Homo sapiens: one gene and its partners. The protein of the gene in region 2 interacts with the protein of the main gene of each other region in a pairwise test. Each region holds a gene or a part of one and is shown on either strand. Other genes may lie near its edges. The genes, in order: THRB, CNOT1, RXRA and CNOT8.

The links.
Region 1: the proteins of CNOT1 (region 2) and THRB interact in a two-hybrid assay, tested with the Homo sapiens proteins (one study listed by IntAct).
Region 3: the proteins of CNOT1 (region 2) and RXRA interact in a two-hybrid assay, tested with the Homo sapiens proteins (one study listed by BioGRID and IntAct).
Region 4: the proteins of CNOT1 (region 2) and CNOT8 interact in binary tests that used the Homo sapiens proteins (3 or more experiments, as listed by UniProt).

Annotation. Positions count from the first base shown.
Region 1 is NC_000003.12:24,116,213-24,121,676, forward strand, and holds the end of THRB (thyroid hormone receptor beta), read right to left. Parts: 3' UTR 941-5,464; downstream 1-940.
Region 2 is NC_000016.10:58,545,616-58,550,381, forward strand, and holds part of CNOT1 (CCR4-NOT transcription complex subunit 1), read right to left. Parts: intron 4,284-4,766; coding exon 4,104-4,283; intron 3,019-4,103; exon of another isoform or gene 2,884-3,018; intron 2,068-2,883; coding exon 1,951-2,067; intron 1,682-1,950; coding exon 1,571-1,681; intron 1,135-1,570; coding exon 1,057-1,134; intron 884-1,056; coding exon 706-883; intron 1-705.
Region 3 is NC_000009.12:134,329,028-134,333,793, reverse strand, and holds part of RXRA (retinoic acid receptor RXR-alpha), read right to left. Parts: intron 1-4,766. UniProt on the Homo sapiens protein: Receptor for retinoic acid that acts as a transcription factor.
Region 4 is NC_000005.10:154,860,915-154,865,680, reverse strand, and holds part of CNOT8 (CCR4-NOT transcription complex subunit 8), read right to left. Parts: exon of another isoform or gene 4,012-4,766; intron 2,475-4,011; 5' UTR 2,403-2,474; coding exon 2,286-2,402; intron 490-2,285; coding exon 296-489; intron 1-295. UniProt on the Homo sapiens protein: Has 3'-5' poly(A) exoribonuclease activity for synthetic poly(A) RNA substrate. Its function seems to be partially redundant with that of CNOT7.

The DNA of each region.
Region 1 (5,464 bases), on a different chromosome or scaffold from region 2:
TCATATGGCCCCTTAGAAGATGGTCTTACACAATTGAGTACTCAGTTGTGTTTGTTTGGTACTAAGTGTGGCCAACTTAGCAAAGCACTTTATATTTATTCTCTTTTCTTCTATGCCTCATTCACTTTTGCCTCCACTCCTTCCTTGGGTGCTATAATGCCTAATAAAATTGCAGCATGAACTTTGCTTTCTGGGGAACCTAGGCTAAGGCAATTCTCTTCTCATTTTAATATAGCCTCCAGGCAATATCACTGTATAGATACAGACTTCATTTATGATTTCATCAGTGTATGGTGTAGGTAGATTGTCTTTAAAGAGTATAACATGGCACTTTTCATCAAGTAGTCAGTGAATTCTCTTGAGATACATGCTCAAATGGTATCTGTAACATTCTGCATTTCAGTAGTTCTACTAAGTTTTGCTTTGGTTTAGACACCATTTAATGTGTCAGAATTTGTGTACATAAACCTGATGACAATTCCCCTTATTTACAAAGCTATGGTGCCCTGAGTGTCTAAACATAAAAACCAGAGTGAGCTGTCATCTTGAGGGTGGAGAAGCAAACCAACTTTGTCCTCTGGCTTCTCTTCATAGATTATTAGACTTTTCCAGGTTTGTGACATGACAACAGCTTCTGGCTTTGCCTGTGTAAAGGGGTTAAGAATTGTACCTAGCTGGAATATATATGTTCCAGCTCTCCACAATAAATGAATCCAGTAATTTCTTGGAGGAGGGAAATATGTTCATTAGGAGGAAGTTGGGAGGTACATAATGTAGACAAGAGATAAATATATAAAGGTTAATCTTAGTCATTTGAATATAGAGTGGAAAAACTCAGAAAATAGTACTCTGAACTGATCTAGCCTAGGGAAATAATGATGCTTGCCCCATCTTACCTGAACTGGTGTTTTCACGAACCAGGAAGAATGCGATCAAACACTTTCTTTGGAAGGTGTTTATTTGGTTCATGTCCTGGCCAAATAAAAACTTGGAGATGAGCTTCCTCTGTGTGAAGGAGAACCGCTTGCTGTACTGAAATGGGATGTTGTTTTAGATTTACCTTTGGTGTGGGCACTGGTTGCTTTTGCTTGCCCACCATTCTCTTCCACTTATAGCAGCAAGACTTAGAATTTTCTTTCAGGAATCATCTTGCCTCAACTCTCAGTCCATAGTTTAGATGAAGCTGACTGTCCCTCTTTCCCCTCACCCAGTTCCAGGATTCCTGAGGATAAGGTTGGTTATGCATCTGTTTTCCTCACCACAGTGATTGGCTCAGGAATGGGCACATGACTGAACTTGGGCCAGTGAGAATTAGGCCAGAATTTTCATTAGAATTGTTGGAGAAAAGAAATTCTCCTTTCACTATATTTGGAGCTGTAAAGCTCATCCTGGAGCTATTGGAGGCCACCGTAAGGTGAAAGGCCATGTGAATGTTAAGTCTACATGAATGACAAAAAAAGGAGCTTCCTGAGAATACTGAGTAAGTGCACCCAGATCCAGCCATGCCTGAAGCTTTGGTATGCAATACCCTAGATCCCAGATATTAAAGTCAATAATTAGCTTTCTGCTTAAGCCAGTTTGAGTTAGCTTTTTGTTACTTGTCATAGAAAGAATCTCAATTAACATGTGTTCAGGGCAACAGAGATTGAGATATATGTTGGCAGCTGATGTTAACATAATTCCATTAGTAATATTCCTGAATAATTTGAGATGAGAAGATGAATGTTGTCCTTGAGCTGCAAAACTTCACCTCTCTCCTCCCTTCATCTTTGTGGCCCCTTCCAAAGAGGTAACCCCCCATCAGCATTTTACTTAGTTTCTTCTCTCCCTCCATAGTTTCTTCTCAAGTAAATTTGCTTATTCTAGTAGATGTTTATTTATGAAATAAATGTCCTTACATCCGTGGTTCCGTCTTTTGGCAGCAGCTGAAGTGAGAAGAGCAGGCAACTCTTTGCCTATGTAGAAAATAATAATATTTAAAGAAAGAGACAGGAAAATATATCTGTTATAAGCTTTTTCTTTTTTAGAATTTAAGCTTATGAGTTTATCTACGCCCACTATATTCATAATTACAGTTTTATATCTGCATACAAAAGCTATGTAAAAATCCATTTTTCCCAAATATACAAATTTTTTTTGGATAGTTTAAAACATTTTGATCACAGATTTCAACAGAGTTTTAGGCTGAAAAAAATATCACCATCTAGCAATATCACTTAACACTGTTTGCAAAACACAAATCTTCCAATGACTGTAAATCTTTTTCTATTCTGTAGTATTTTTCTGATTCTCAGGGCATGAAAACATTATGGGAAAAAAAAGGATTTTCTACGAAGAAAGCATGGAGAACTAATTTGGCTCTATGGTCAAATTAAAAATGCCAAGTTAATAAGGGAGAACCAAAAGAAAGAAGTGGCATAATGTCACATCAGCTCATTCATGCCCTGATAATTTCTGTATCAACAATACATATGTAAAGTGTCTCCTTTTGTCTTACATTGTGCTCCATAATTTACATGAGTATTATCTGCATCCTGAGGAGGACAGATTTATATTTGATTGTCTTGTGCATAGGGTGGGTCAGCTTTAACTGTGCAACAGAAAGCCACAAACAGCGTTTTACCTGCACAATATTGCTCTTGAAGGCGGCATTAATTAATGTGGAAACACACTATAAATGCACACTTTTCGCATTTGCAAACATTTATACAGCACAGTAAAAATTCTGTGATAAGGCCAAACCTTTTTTCCCCCAGTCTGGTTTTTTTTTTTTTTTTTTTTTTTTTTTTTTGAGTGTGTTTTTAATGCATTTTTTTTAAAGATTAAAGTAAAATGTCTCAATTGTAAAAAATACACACCGGGCAAATCCTTACCTGGATAATAAATATCTACATCACAGTACAATAAAATTTCTTCTCTATAAAATTTAAATATGGATTATAGTCTATCACTATCAAAAGAAACACTATGCTAATATTTCCATATTATTAAAATAACAGGAAAAATTACGAGCTTATTTTAGAACCTGATGCCATAGCCGTTGGAAAGGGCAAAGAGATTCAAATGTCGATCATCACTCTCCATTTGAGGAGGAACTGTGGCTTGGTTATTCACTTAAATTCAGTTCATGAAAAAGGTTTAGCCTTACAAATGCTGGCTACATTTCAAAAACTGTAAGACTGATTTCATAATTTATGACTCATGCAGCAAAAGGTCAATATGACACGAATAGGTTAGAGTTCCATAGAATAAAAAGGTATCACTGACAATGACATGCTTCAAGGGTGCTCAGCGGTTCCTTGGAGGCTGAGTCTGTGGGGGGCTTAGTGTCGAGGAGGGGCCAGGGCTTGTACCCCTGTTCATGGAGGAGCAACAAGAACGGCGTTGCTGGCACAGAGCGAAGGCCTGGCAGTCCACCCCAGGCCTGCACTGCACACTGAAGAGCTGTCGCCCGGGGCACAGGTGAGGGGCTTCGCTGGGCTGAGGCATCAACAGGTCAAGCGCGTCATTGAGGACCGAGGCTCTAGAAAAAGCTCTGAGGCGGCACGTGGTGTTTTGAGCAGAATCATAAAGAAGAAAACATCTTACTTTTTTCATTGTTTCTGGAAATACTGCACGTCTAAATTGAGCAAAGTACACTTGAGGGTCACACACGCACGCGCATACACTCACACGCACACACGCCCCACACCGCTCATCCCTAAAAGGGAAGTGATTTATAAATACAAATCCCAGCATAATGGGTGTGTTCTCCTCTACTGAGACGTCTCCCTGCCGAGGGGGTGGGAGCGCAGGTGTGAAGGGTATCTCCATCAGGTCCACACTGGATTTGCAAGTCTGGACAATAGATGAAAAAATGTTTAGAAAAATCTAGAGCAAATCCCTCACAAATGAGTTTTATGAGATGGAGTCTTGAGATGCACTAAGTACCTCTGTCAGCTTCAGAAGGAAGGAGTTTAGTTTCAGAGTCATTATCTTTTGAGTCCTATGGCCTTTCCTTTCAACCTGAAGGTGGGCTAAGGCTTGTCCTACTCCGCATGAAGTATTCAGCCTTCAACGAGATTTCCAGACCAGCAGTTTGCCTATTGAAGGCAATCAATCATTTAAGGTGCCAAGGATCAAACGTTCCTTTACTTGCGGCTGGCTGGATGGCTGTTTATATGCCATACTATTTGGCCAATTCTCGATCATGGTTAGTCCCCAAAGCATTCTGATTTAGCTTGAGATCAGGCTCTGAACTTATATTCAAATCTGGGTGTCTGATGTACTGAGGACCCTGTCAAACAAAATGAGGAAACTTTCCCCAGAAGGCCTGACGCTGCAGGACCCTGCCTGCTTGCCTTCCTCTCATTCCCTTTGGAAAGAAAGCTTGCCCCAGACAGCAGAGCTTCTCAGGGTTACCCTGGAGCACAGAGGTGGCTAAGTGTTTGTCTTCCAAAGAGCGGTTGGTTCCTCAAGGAGTCAAGAGAGGAAGCTGAAATATTAGCAGAGCAAGCAATTAAGGAGCCTGGCCAGAGGCTGCCTAGACAAAACCAAACCCCAAAACAATCTGTCTGTAGATAAAGCAGGTAATCTGCCAATGAATTTCGTGCTTATAATTGTAAATCTTTTCACTTCCTTTCTCTGGGTAACAAGTTCCATAGCAATGTTCTTGTTTCCTTTTTCCCAGAAGCCAGTACAATTGCTTTCATGCATTGAATATTTAATTCCCCGCTCCCAGATAATTTCCAATCATACTTGGAATTTTCAGTGCTGTTCCTCTTCTTTTTCCAAGGCCTCTAAATGGTTGACTAGTATTGTGTCAAATTATTATTTCGAGCCAATAACAAATTTACGTTCCTTAACTGTTAAGTGGGCCATACTTCTTGTCTAATAAAGTTAGGAATTTAAGTGTTAAAAAAAAATAATTAAAGGAACCAGATTTTTTTTTTCCCCTTGAAATTCAGACAATATTAAGGGCAGGAAGGGTTTTAGAGATCATGACTTATTCACCAGGTAAGAAAACCAAGACCTAGAATTACAAATCTACCAGTTGACAGAGCACGAACTAGAACTCAGGCACCCAGACTTCTGGGCCAGTTATGCTCCACCAAACTTACAAAAAGCATCTACTTGGTTTCCATAGTGACTTTCCTTCCTTTGTTTTTAGGTAAATCTCACTGATATGGCTTATTTTCCCCAATATTTCCAGGATAAGGCAGTAAAAGGTAGGCAAAGGAATAGTTTATATCTACTATGCCAGTGGAGAATGAGATACATTCAATTGCATGGGTACATTCTATGCCCATTTTCTGACGCTGAAGAGATGAAGTGTCACTGTTTGTTTTCTGGGCACAAGCTATTCTAGCATGGGCCGTTGGGGAGGCAGGTTGGGCAGGAAAGTTAAGTGTGCACATGGTCTGCAGGTGTTTTCTATTGAGTATCTGTCAGGGTATGCTATGAGAGGGACAGGAGGGTCAGTGGC
Region 2 (4,766 bases):
ATGTAGCAGGTCCTATTTTTCCCACCCTGAAAGGGAAATTCTGTTGTTATAACAGAGATATACACGAAGTATGTTAAACTATGTCAGTGCCAGTGCCCCACAGCACAGAAATCAACTGAGCAGCCATGCCATATTGTCAGGCCCAAGTCCTATAAACTTAGTCTATATTATAAATGTATGTTTTCAACCTAGCCTGTTCCTAGGTTTATCTGGGGATTCTCAGCTGCTGAGGACTGAGAAAGAAAGAAAAGCTCAATTTATTCTAACCACAACTCCCAATCATTCAACACTCCCATACCCTTCTCCCATCTTCTTCATGTAGATAAAACAGTCCCATTCCCTTGGCAGATCTAGCAGGTCTGGCCATACCCAGATTTGAGGGGTTAACAGGCCATCATAGTATGCAGTTATTTCTGGGACTTCACACAACAAAGGAGATAACCTGGCCTAGCTGGGGTATGAGAGGCAACTGATTAAATCACATTTAGTTAATAATATGCATGAACTGTCAGGATGGAATCTAAGATGGTAACACAAGGCCTAGTCATTACTTCTGCTTGATAATTAGAAGGCTCACCAAAACGTATACAAAGTTTCACCACTACATTATGTGGGAAATTATAGTTTGCGATATACATGGACAAGTACCATTTAAGATAGTATCCTAGCTAACAGAAGCCTTCCTTGACTAATTAGCACACTTACTTGTGGTTGTGATGGGAGGGAGTTCTTCTGGCTGCTTGACATCTTTCTTTGGAGCAGAGAGTTGCTCATCTAAATTCTTCAGGCGATCTTTATCCTTTAGGAGGTTTCCAGGTTTTAGCTCATTGATGTCTAATGCAAGGTTCTTGCAGAGAACCTCGATTTCAAACTTCAAGTTTAACTGCACAGTTCCAGAGTTGGATTAGAATTTTTAAAAGAAAACTTTAGTTTTACTCATAATATACTCTACTTTCAGTTATTATAGTACTTCCCCCGAAATACCCTGCCTTCACTGTAAGTTTTAATAATGTGAAGGCAAAGAATGTTCCAGAGGACAAGGAAGCAGTAAATTACCTTTAAGTCATGCTCCTGATGTAGCTCAGCTAATACATTCATAATTGCCATTGTCCAAGGGTTTGGTGGCCTAAAAACCTAAAGAAAAGCTATTATGTTAAGCTGGCCCAAAATGTGCCCTTTAATTTGGATTATTTAAAACAATTCAATACAACATAAGGGGGTAGGGGGGAGTCAAACAAATAAAAAACAAAAAACAAGGATTAAAAAATAACCAAAAACAGTTAAACATAGTTAAACACTTATACCTCTGTAGCCATAACAAAACCCCTAGCCTTCTCACCTATATCACATTTCAAAAACAAAACAAAACAAAAAACCAAAAACCAAAGCCAACCATTATAATCTTTCTTATTTCACCCAGCCTCTCAAATTGGAAATCCAAGTGCCATAGAGGAAAACAGACTTAACTAGCTTTACCTCACAAGAACTAAGAATATAATCTCTTGACCTCATGCTAAAACAAAGCAATGCTTAGAAATTAGTCATAAATAAAATATTAAAATCTACTCACCACACTACGAATGCTAGATTCTAAGACTTTGGCAACAAAGGGCACTACATAGAGCAATTCTTGTTGTCCTTTAACATAAGCCTCTAGCAGCAATGATTTCACATCCAAGTCCTAGAATAAGAAAAATACTTTCAAAAGCGGGGAATATACCCCCCAAAATGGTATAACAAAACCAAAGAAAAGTATTTTGCCAAGCTTATCCCCAAAACAGGAATCAACATAATGTCTAGTCCTTGCCTTACAAAAAGGGGTTAACAACTCAAAACGTGGGCCAAAATCTTACAAAACCCCAATAATCATTAAATAGCTCCAAACAGCCAATACTTGTAATCATAATGTGCTGAAGATTCTCAATTTTTACACATTTAGATGAAACTCACAGTGTGTAAGATGGGTTTGTTTTTAGCTAATGTGATCATTCCTAGCCAATGTCCCAAGTTCTTCAGCAAAGAACGATCTGAGAAATTGGCTGCAGCTTTATCAGAGGTCAGGAGCACCTGAAATAGTGTAAGATTAAGAAAGATATGAGAATAAGCTTATGAAAGAAAACTCAACTAAGTATTTGAGAATTCCATTATCCTATCCTAAAGACAAGTCATCATTTCTAAGAACAGGCCCCAAAGTAGAATTACTCTGTATATCATTCTCAATATCATTTTGCTGTGTTTATGATTCAACAGTGCTATTTTTACCTTGAAGAAGTCTTTACATTTTATTTTTTCAAAATAGGTACAAACACATTGCACAAAATTCAAAAAGAACACAAAGTTATGTGCCAGCTATCCTCCCCTAGAAAAGTATTTTCAACTCTGAAAACCTTAGCTAGGTTTAAAGCAGAGACCTAACTACAAAGCTATTTTGAAGTGCTAAATTAATTTAAATGAGGATGATAGCCATGCTTAAGTCCTTAAAGGCAGCAAGCATACAAAGGAATATAATCAAATTAGCCTCCTATTGCAATCTTCAGTATACCCAGGTCATTAACAAATCTCTGCAGCCAACCAAGATAACTTTCTGAGATATAGTATAATACTGTTTATATACTTCTTTTCAAATTTCTAAAAAACCCAAACCATTTAACTGATTCTCCGGTTACTGTTTTTCTAAGGGGGGGCAGAACTAACATAGGAGAGTGTTTTGGCTGCAGGTATGCACACATGTATATACCCATCTACTCTGTGGTACCTCTTGACTTAGGGCTATATTTAAACTTCTGTTTAAAAAACATGGTCTTGAAACTTTGCTACAGAGTATGTGGAAACTTTTATGTATCCCAACCACCCTTGCTATCAGATAATAAAAACGAAATAGAGCCATGTTCCTTAACTCTATACAGCAACAGCAGAATGGCACAAGTCAGCTGTGCAACAGAGAGCCAGGAATTCTTTTGCACTACAGCGTAACCAAGAATGGGGAATATTCCCATCCACAGGTTTAAATATAGTGCTGGTTCCTAAGCCAATGACCCAAGTTATTGAGCAAAGAATGACCACAGCTGTATGCTGGTTCTAGAAGTTTTTCCTCCTAAGAAATAAATGATGGTTTAGAAATTAAAATACTTGAATTTTGTTGAATAAGCCTCAGCTCAGTAGAATTTGACCTTAAACTGCACAGACTCCTAGACAACAGCTATTCCACAAACAGATTTAGAGTCTAAAGATATCTTGCACTTGAATACTACAAGATACAAACGAAAACATTCAGGACAGCATTGTTTATAATAGTTTAAGTGATTAACAACACAAATGCCCAGCAGCAATACAAATACATACAATGGTTTTCTACAAGACTATATTTTTCTGTTTTTTAAAAAAGAGGACTGGCCGGGCACAGTGGCTCAGGCCTGTAATCCCAGAACTCTGGGAGGCCGAGGAGGGTGGATCACCTAAGGTCAGGAGTTCGGGACCAGCCTGGCCAATATGATTAAACCCCGTCTCTACTAAAAATATAAAAATTAGCTGGGCATGGCGGTACAACTATAATCCCAGCTACTCGGGAGGCTGAAGTAAGAGAACTGCTTGAACCTGGGAGGTGGAGGCTGCAGTGAGCCGAGATCGTGCCACTGCACTCCAGCCTAAGCAACAGAGTGAGACCACATCTCAAAAAAATTGAAAAAAAAAAAAAAAGGGGGCTACAGCAAAGAGCATTATCATTATCATGAATAATATCCAGGGGAGAAAAAAAAGTAAGTGAAAAAAAAAGAAAAGGATGTACAGAGGGCGACACCATACAGAATATGCTAACCAATACTATGCTGCTTATGTATAACAGTGGTAAAGTTCTAAAATCATGCATGGCATGACAAAAACAATTCATAATAGTGGTTACTTTCAAAGAAAAGGCACAGGGTATGCCTATAAATTTAAGTTCTGCATAAAATTTAGTTCCATATAAGAAACAAAATCTACAGCAATTTCCAGAGGTACCTAATATTGACAATATATATGGAAAAATAGCAAAAATCCTACCTATATAATCAAATATTTCCAAATTCAAAGCAATAATTAAAGGAAATATAAGAACCAACTCTTACTTTAATGTTTCTGTAGGTCTCATTCAGAACCATCTTGTTAAATTCAGGATTCTTCAGCGTGTCAAGGAAGTTTGAATACAGGCTATGAAAGTTTGGCTCAATACTGACTCTCTTCATAACCAGATACTGTGAAACCCAAGGCATAAATTCTTCTTTCACCGTTTCCTTTAGCTCTTCAACCTAGCCGGTCAATACGACATGGGAAGCACAGAATTACACTATGATAAAATAACACTTGGTTTCTATGAACCATACTATACAGCACATGGCTCCTTGCAAAACTAACTAGATGCTAAAGAATGACTTTCCTTCACACCAGATAGATGCTATGAAGAAAAGTATGCTCAATTCCATAGTCAATCACAACTCAACCCATACGTGATTGGGACTGAAACATCTATGGCTATTTTCAGCTTTAAAATTATAAAACATGTAGTACCCCATCTCCACATAAATTACTAATCTATAAGCTGCCATTAACATACCTACAGTGTAACCAAGAATGGGGAAAATTCCAGAACTATGTTTTCCTAAATTTCCATCTACAGGAATCCTTAGCTAACTCTGGCGTTTCCAAGTACAGTTAGTTGACCCTTGAACAAGGATTTGAACTACATAGAGTAAAATTAAATGTAGATTTTCTTCTATTAATACCTCCACTAC
Region 3 (4,766 bases), on a different chromosome or scaffold from region 2:
AGCGACTCCAGCCACCTGTGCTGTCACTGCCTGACCTCTGCCCAGGGCCAGTGTGGACACTTAAGCTAAATTGGTCAATTACAGGATACTTAGATCCCTCCCCGGGGCTTCCCAGCCTCACTGCATTCTGGGCTGCAGCACCAGGAAGCCTGTTGAATCAGTAACCTCATTACAGCCGGCGGCCGCACCCGGGGTTGTCTTTGAACTCCGAGGGTTTATCCATGGCGGCTGGAGGATTTACACACGGCCTGGCCCAGGCCCAACTCACTCTCCCCTCCCCTCAGCGCCAGAGGCTCCAGACCCCGCACGCACGGCAGCAGTCTGCGCCGACACCCATCACCCCCAGCCCTGGCCCCGGGTACAGCTGGGGAAACCGAGGCCCAGCTGGAAATTACTATGGCTTAGAGGGCCAACAGAGGTGCGGGGAGGCCAGGCACGGCCTCTGGGTCACCCCAGAGGTAGGACTGTGACCAAGGGCTTCCCGGCATCCCTCACCCCAGCAGGCAGTGCCTGGAAGAGGAGCTGGGGCTGAAGCCTATCATCAAAGACAGATGTGGGCTGTGCAGGACAGACCCCGTGGCAACTTCTCACACAGAGACCCTGAGAGGCTCTGATCCCCTGAAGGACCCCTGAATGTCCCACTCCCCAGCCCCAAAGTCTGGTCCCCTCCATGGTCTCAGCATCCCTGATCCGGCCCCAAGAGGCCCGGCTGCTCTACTCCCCCTGGACGGCCTGCCCCCTACTTCATCCAGAGCCTGGGGAGTGCAGGGGGGGCCGGAGCCAGGGCCAGGGAAAAGGTGCCTCACCCATACCCGTGCCCGGGAAAGACGACCCCCAGGCCAGCCCAGGGACCTGGCCTAAGCCCCCAGGAAGATGCTAGGAATCCTCCCCCCTTCCCAGGCTGCCATGCTGAGGAGCCCAGCCAGGGCAAGGGTGCAAGGCCATTCACAGGGGCCCCAAGGCCCACCTGAAACCAGTGAGCCACCTGGAGAGAGTCACTTCCTCCTTCCAGGCCTTGCCTGGCTGCCTCCAGACCACCCTCTGCACAGCACTGGTGGCCTCATTCCAGCCATGAGCACCACACTGGGATCCCCCAGTCTCCGGGCACCCATGCACCTACGCCCGGCACACAGGCCCTACCCAGCCTCACCTCACACGTGAACCCCCTCCTGGTTCCAGCCCTGCAACCCCACCCTTGCGTCCTCACCCTCTTCACCCCCTCCAGGCCAGACCTTGCTGTCCCTACCTCTGGGCACCCCTCCCCCACCCCTCCTCCACAGGCAGCAGGACCAGGCCAGCACCCAGCGGGCGCTCCCTAAGCCACGTGTGGACAAGCCCACCAGCAATCCCCGCCTCCCCAGCCAGGGTTGTCAAGGCTCTGCCAGGTCACCCTGGGAAGGCTGCGGCGGACGCCTGCATGCATGGGGTGGGCCGCGTGTGCTGGGTTAGGACCTCAGAAAGAACTGTGCCCCTACCCTGCCCTGCCCTGGGACCCGGGGGTCCAATCTCACTCCGTCCACTCCCCCAGGTACCTCAGGAATTTGCTGCAGACAGTGCTGCCCTGGTGGCATGAGGAGGTGGGCAAGCCACAGTTCCAGGCTGGGCCTCTGCTGCTCACCCAACTACAGCTTTCCACCTGGGAGTGGGGACTTCTCCTAGCCACCACCCCAAGCCAAGGACAACCCTGGAGTGAGGATCAAGGGGTCGCCACTCCTTAGAGGGCCTTCAACCAGCACAAGAGGCCAAGATGCCCAGTCCCAGGGCACAGAGCTGGCATGGTGAGACCTCAGCCCTCCACCAGGGTCCCCACTGAACAAAAACCTCACTCACTCGGGCCAAGACCAGCAATGGGGCTCCTGGGAACCAGCATGGGGCATAGACCCAGCCTGGTCGGTGAGCAGCCTCTGAGGATGCTGAGAGGCAGGAGGACCAGGGGCAGCAGAGCCCCCACCCTGGGGACAGGTCCTCCCAGCTGGAGCTCAAGGCGGCCCCCGCCAGTCAAGTGCCGGAGAAAAAGCAGGCCCCACAGCGGGACACAAAGGCTGGCCCACAGACCTCACCCAGGGTTCAGTGTCCCCATCCACTAAGTGGGCTTGTCTCTGTGACACCTCCACAAGGTCCCAAAAATAAAGTCCCTGGCACGCAGCAGGCACCCGCTGCAGCCATCGGCACCTTCGTGGGGGTAGGGTGAGTCCTGGACAAGTTGGGGAGATTTAGAAAAAAAGGAGGCCAACAAACCCAGCAGGGAGCACCATGATCCTTGGGGGACCCCATGAGGCCTGGCTCACTCACGGGCACGCCAGGACACGGGCCAGCGGCCAACAGCGCCAGGTGAGAGCCTGTGACTCTGTGTGTGTGCAACAGTGAGCGTGCACACACCCAAGCCCTGCACGCGGTCCGCACCCGCTCTCCCCACAGCGGCCGGGCCAATTTTCCTTAGCTGCTTTCTGCTCCATTTCACGCTCATTCAGCTGCTGAGCTAGACAATTGCTTTGTAACTCTAGGGCGCAATTTCCCTGTCTGTGAGGCGCTGGGGCACAACTGCTCAGAACATCTCGCACCAGGCTCGGGTGGGTGTGCAAACCGCGGTCCCTCGCCCCACCTGCCTTCTTGGGACTCTGAGGAGGGTCCCTGGAGTGGCACAGGGGCTGGTCCCAAGGACCCAGCAGCAGCGAGCGCTCTCCTGTGGCAGGCCTATATCCACAGAAAGGGCTACCTCAGTGTCCCCGATGTCCTCTATTCCTGAGTCTGTTCCTCTACACCTGACAGCCCCCAGCGACCATCATGGCCTGTTCTGGTCCAGTGCTGGAAACCTGGCCCCACCTGACCCAGGCAGGAGGCACAGAGAGGACCTAGCCACAGGATAGGGGAAACGCCCCACAAACAGACTCCCCAAACTCCCAGCCAGCCTACAACACACCAGGCTGCCTTCTCCAGCATTTGGAAGAGCCAATGAGTATGTCCATTTTTCAGATGGACAGCCAAAGCCCCAAGAGGCCAAAGAGCAGACCAGGCAGGCAGCGAGGACAGAAGGCCCAACCCCAGGTGGCCTGACCACCCGCCCAGCAATGGGACACCACCTGTCAGAACCTCTTCCTGGGAAGGTGCTGATCCCTGCAAAACCACCACCACCTCCATCCTGCAGGTAACAAAGGCCCTGAATGGGAGGGGGCAGAGGAGAGGAAGGAAGGATGAAAGACAGAGCTGCACCCTATAAAATGGAAACATACAGGCAGGTGGGCAAGGTGCAGGGGGGAGGAGGGTGACCCCTCTACCCACACCATAGCACCCTGAAACTGATCAGCTTAAGAATCTCAGGACAAAGGTCTGGAAGGTGACCCCCAAATGGACACCAGCCCCCAACAGCCACAGGCCAGCCCCCCAGGCCCTTGTGGCCCTAGACCCCAGCCTCATCCCTAGCCCAGCAAATGGCCAATTCCTATGAAAACACACCAGTTAACAGGCCAACCCAAGGCCCTGGCCACCAAAGCCAGCTAAAAAACACAAACTCAAGCCTGGCAGAGAAGGGAAGGAGGGGCAGGTCTTGGCTTGCAAAGCCCGGGTCCCAGGGACAGTGTCCCAGCCCTGAGCCAGCTGGGGGTTGGGGAGGGCCTCTGCCCTGTGTCTGCTGGGACAGCTGTGCCCTCTTCTCCAGAGGACAGGCATTGCTCACCACTCGAGGTCCCAGCCCTGAAACATTTGACCCATGGCAAAACCAAACGTCACCCAAGAAAGGAAACTCCCCAGGCAGCCTCCACTGGCACTGGGTGGACCTGTAAAGCTTTCACCCCGCCCCCACACCACCTTCCATGCAGCTGAGGTCTGTCCCACCCTCTCCTGATGCCAGAGCCCCCTGCCACATGCACGACCAGGCCCCAGGGGCAGAGGGGCACACCCCTGAGTACCCCCTGTTCCCACAGTAATTCCACAGCAAATCCTGCAGGCACCCTTTCCCAGGGGAGGAAACAAAGACCACTGACAGCGACCTCCCACACAGCCACGGGGGAGATGGGGCAGGGGCCAAGAGAGGGCAGTCAGAGGGGCCTCCTGGTGGAGGTGAGCCCCCCACAGGCCCTGAAGGACAGGCACAGCTGGAAGAACCACCAGGTGCTGGCAGAGCCGGGAGCCAGTCACAGCAGCTGCCCGCGTGACCAGGGCTGCCGGCTCAACCTGCACCCCACACCCCAAGGGACTCAGAGCACCCGCCCCCCACCAGCCCTTCCTAGGGGCCCAGCTCGTCCCATCCACATCTGGGCAGAGGGTCACAGCTGCATGCTCGGGTCCAGGCCCAGCAGCCAGCCCTAGGCAAGGTTGGAGGCTAGCAAGCCAGGGCCACCATCGGACTGGGCCATTTTTCTCTCCCTGACACCTCCCCAGTCAACAAACAGGGCCCCTCCAGAGTTTACCAAAACAAACACCCTGCCGTCGGGCAGCGCCCGCGCTAAAAGACGCCCTCGTCAGGCCCGAGCGGGACTCCAAGCCCAGCCTCCTGAGAGTCACATGACCCTGTTATTTCGGGAGGCCCCGGAATGTGCTCTATTTTGGGTCCCAAGGGCTCTGATGTTACCAGAAGCCCCTCACACAGGCTGCAAGCTCACCCAGGCCCCCAAGTGCCCCAACTCCAAGAGTGGTCAGCGGGCCTACAGCTTTGCCACCGGGTCTCTCCACAGGCGCATGGGGTCTGGTGTGGTCTGAGACCTTTGGACTCTGTGGACTCCGCCTGAGTCCCACCATTCAGGATAAGGCCAGCGGGGGCCTTCTCCCCG
Region 4 (4,766 bases), on a different chromosome or scaffold from region 2:
AAGTGGTATCCCAATGTGGGTTTAATTTGCATTTCCCTCATGACTAATGATGTTGAGCATCTTTTCATGTGCTTACTGGCCATCTGTACATTATCTTTCAAGAAAAGTCTATCTTTTGCACATTTTTAGTTGGGTTGTTTATCTTTTCATTGTTGAGCTGCTGCAGTTCTTTAAGCAGGACTTCACTTGCTGAGATTCCCTGTTCCGTCCTCTGCTTGACCGCTCTATCCAACACCCACCTGGATTCAGTGAAAACAAAACTTAAAATTAACGCATTTATTTAGAAATCACTTACGTAAGGTTAAATTTGAAATTGAACTGCCAAGTATTGATTCCAGAAGGATACTCTCCCTTCTCATTTGTGAATGTAAGGCCCAGCTGGATAATTTTTAAAAGGTCAACATTGCACCGCAGAAGCTGATATTGGTAATCTATGGAACTACGAAATTCACCAATTGGTCGCACCACAACACCTGGAAATTCTGTGTCCTGGAAAAGGAAAAAGTCTCTCATCACAAGGTTTCACAAAACAGTGGATGCTGAATTGGTAATTCATAAATAAAATTTTACCTCCATTTATAAAAGTTATGTGGCAAGCCCCAAACTTGGGCACAAAATTCTTTTTGTGTTTTTTTGAGATAGGGTTGGTCTGTCTCTGTCACCCAGGCTGGAGGGCAGTGGCACAATCACAGCTCACTACAGCCTCAACCTCACAGGTGCAATCAATCCTCCCACCTCAGCCTCCCTAAGTAGCTGGAACTACAGGTGCACACCACCACACCCAGTTAATTATTGTATTTTTTTGTAGAGATGGGGTTTCACCATGTTGCCCAGGCTGGTCTCAAGTGATCCACCTGCCTCGGCCTCCCAAAGTGCACAGATTACAGGCATCAGCCAACACACCCAGCCAAAATCCTATCTTAAAATACTGATCTTGTTGGTATCTACTGAAGAAGCACTAAAATCATGAAGCTTTGCACAACAACTTGATCCTAAATAAGCAGAATGTCAATAGAAAGAGTTGAGTAACTACAGGTAGATATGCAGTCAATTAAGAACATTCTAGGTAGAGAACAATATATGAATAAAAATACAAATACAGGGAAGTGAAACAGCCATTCAGAAAAAAATATAAAGAGACAGGCTTAGCTTGAGTGAAAAGACTGGAAGGAGCTCTGAATACCAAGCTAAAGACTTAACTCTGTAATTTCTTTTTTTTTTTTGGGACGGAGTCTCGCTCTGTCCCCCAAGCTGGAGTGCAGTGGCACGATCTCGGCTCACTGCAAGCTCTGCCTCCCGGGTTCACGCATTCTCTGCCTCAGCCTCCCGAGTAGCTGGGACTACAGGCGCCCACCACCATGCCCGGCTAATTTTTTGTATTTTTAGTAGAGGCAGGGTTTCACCGTGTTAGCCAGGATGGTCTCAATCTCCTGACCTCGTGATCCGCCCGTCTCGGCCTCCCAAAGTGCTGGGATTACAGGCGTGAGCCACCGCGCCCGGCCAACTCTATAATTTCTAAAGCAGGAGTCACAAACTCCAAGCAGCTAATGTAAAGGAGTAAAGTCAGCTAGGTATGAAAATAGTACAAGTAATCGGGACTGGAGTAAAACAGAGAGCACATGCCCGTCTACAGGAGGCCCTTAATATTACCACAATACTCATCTCTCTCTCCAGCCAGTGTCAGGCAGGAGTGGATAACAGATATTGCCAGATCTTCCTATTTTTTTTTTTCAGAGATGCCAGAAATCTGGAATTCAAGTGAGTTCTATTGACTTTTAAATGCTGGCAATAAATTTTTAAAATTCTTAACATCGTATAGTCAAATCCAACATATCTGTGGAACAGCTGGGCCCTAGGGGATGACGTAACTTCTGCTTTAAAGACTTTCAAACAGAATAATGTTATAAAAAATCTAAGATACTAGAGGTTACATCCTTCTCAGAGACACTGGCTACCTTGATATTTCATGAAGCAACACAACCTTCCATCCGGTTTAATTTACAATGGCTTTAGTGGAACATACCCATTCTTTTCAAAATCTCAAATTAAACATTCCCTAAACCCATCCATATAAGAAGGTGAGTCAAGCTGGGCATAGTGGTATGAGCCTGCAGTCCCAGCAACCTGGAAAGGTGAGGTGGGAGGACTGCTTGAGCCCAGGAGTTCAAGGCTGCAGTGAGCTATGATTGCATCTGTGAATAGCCACCGCACTCCAGCCTGGGCAACAGAGCAAGACCCCAACTTTAAAAGTGACAAAGAAGGTGAGTCAGAGTAGAGCTCCTTACCATGGCAATATAACTGTAACTGAGCACGATTTCTCGGATCTTCCTCATCTCTTCTTCTAGATTACTGGCCCACACTTCACAGATAACCTGGCTATTCTCCACAAGTGCTGCAGGCATCCTGAAGAAACCTGAGAAGTCGTCTTCAGCTAACTAGTTTTACAGTGCAAGCCAGACAATGTTTGGTCTGATCTAGATTGTAAAACATTTTAAAATCATGTAAGTTTACACACACATAAGATGTCAACACAACAAAGACATCAAAATAATATTTTACAATCACTTCATTAGTTTAAAACATTAAGATTATATTTATTCTCCATTTTATATGATGGAGAAACTTTGTCAACACACACACACACATGCACACACGCACACACACACAGTTCTTTCTTGAAGAAACTGAAGTTATTGAAACTTCTGCCCAGCAGTCCTCTGCCACAGAAGTGAAACCACTACCCTAGTTTTTCAGCTCTCTGTAGACTAGACCAAAATAATTCCGTTACCACAAATATGCCCTTATCCATGACTTTCACATCACTTTGCACAGAGACCAAATCATGGAAACAGTCCTACAGGAATCATCTTAGCCATTTTCAATGTACCTGAGATCTCTGAAAACCTGAAAGAATGTGGACCTAAACTCTCACACTCAAGCCTTTGTACCCATATGATGAATACTGGCATGGGATTCTTCCCCCATCCCACAAAAGGAAATTATTTTTCTCTACAATCCCAAAGTCAAATACAACTAGAGGTAATAAACAATACCAGTGCCTCTTTAGACATACCAGTGCCTCTTTAGATTTGTGCAAACAGAGCATGAAGTGAGGGATTTAAGTGCTAAAAAACAATCCCACTTGCTAATCTGAACCCTAAAAACCACAATGCAAATCAGAATTTTAGTTAGTATTTACTTTTTTTTTTTTGAGATGGAGTCTTGCTCTGTCGCCCAGGCTAGAGTGCAGTGGTGCACTCTTGGCTCACTGCAACCTTTGCCTCCTGGGTGCAAGCAATTCTCCTGCCTCAGCCACCCAAGTAGCTGGGACTATAGGTGCACGCCACCACGCCCAGCTATTTTTTGTATTTTAGTAGAGATGGGGTTTCACCATATTGGTCAGGCTAGTCTTGAACCCCTGACCTTGTGATCCACCGGCCAGTATTTACTTTTAAACACATAAATTAAAAAGAAACTATGCAGCAATTCAACAGTAGGACTAAAGATGGCTGGTGTAAATCATTCAACCAGAAACAGAATGATTCATGGTGTATTTTCCAGGAGAAAAATCAGGGAGGGGAAAGTATTCTGTGAGAAAAAAATTCAACATGATTGGGTCTCTGACGAATGCTGTTATTATTATGGCAAACAACGTACAAGGCCTGGTTATAAAAATACAAAAAAGCCGGGCATGGTGGCTCACGCCTATAATCTCAGCACTTTGGAAGGCCGAGGCGGGCGGATCACAAGGTCAGGAGATAGAGACCATCCTGGCTAACACGGTGAAACTCCGTCTCTACTAAAAATACAAAACGTTGGCTGGCTGTGGTGGCACGCGCCTGCAGTCCCAGCTACTCGGGAGGCTGAGGCAGCAGAATCGCTTGAACCCAGGAGGCAGAGGTTGCAGTGAGCCAAGATCGCGCCACCGCACTCCAGCCTGGGCGACAGAGCGAGACTCCGTCTCAAAAACAAACAAACAAACAAAAAAGAGCTTATCATAAAGGCACTTACTTCTAAGGCAAGCCCACTGCATGGATCCACAACACAATAGTGGGCTCTAATGTATATATTTAAAGAAAATTTCCTAGAAACAGTAAAACGAATGTAAGTGGTTCCCAAGGGACAGAGCAAGGAAAATCTTTGCTTCCTATTTTCAAGATTGGCAGATGCAACAATGAGAATCTGGAGCAAAACAAAACTGGCATCATTTCTCTAAGAAACTTCTGAGAAATCAAACTGTTGGTTTGCCAGCAAACCTTGAAGATTCCATTTATTCAAGGTATCCTATACTTCCACAGATTTTTCTCTGTAATTACAGTAATTAAACTTAAGTAGACTATGTGGCATCTCCCCCAAAAAACATAGTAGAAACTTCTTAAAGCCAGAATAAATTTCTTCTCTTGTTTTTGTTCTATTACAGGCTTGCAAAAGAACAATAAAGATCAGGAAAAGAGAGAAGTTCAGAATGAATGTGGAGTAAATTACACTATCTGACCATAATTCAGAAAATGTTTCGACTCAGAATTTTAGATTCCTAAACTTGCTTAAGATTTCTCCCCTGCAAAAGGCCTTAAAACCATTTTCTATACCCATATAATGTTAAATCGGTGGTACTTCCTTATTTCCCTAACTGAAATAATACCCTTCATTTTTGGTGTCATTTCAAACATAACCATAACTACTTTGGAGGAAGTGGGTGTATCACTCCTGAGTTTTTGAGAGATGTTTCCGTAAAAGCAAAAGCAACAACAACAAAAAACCCCACA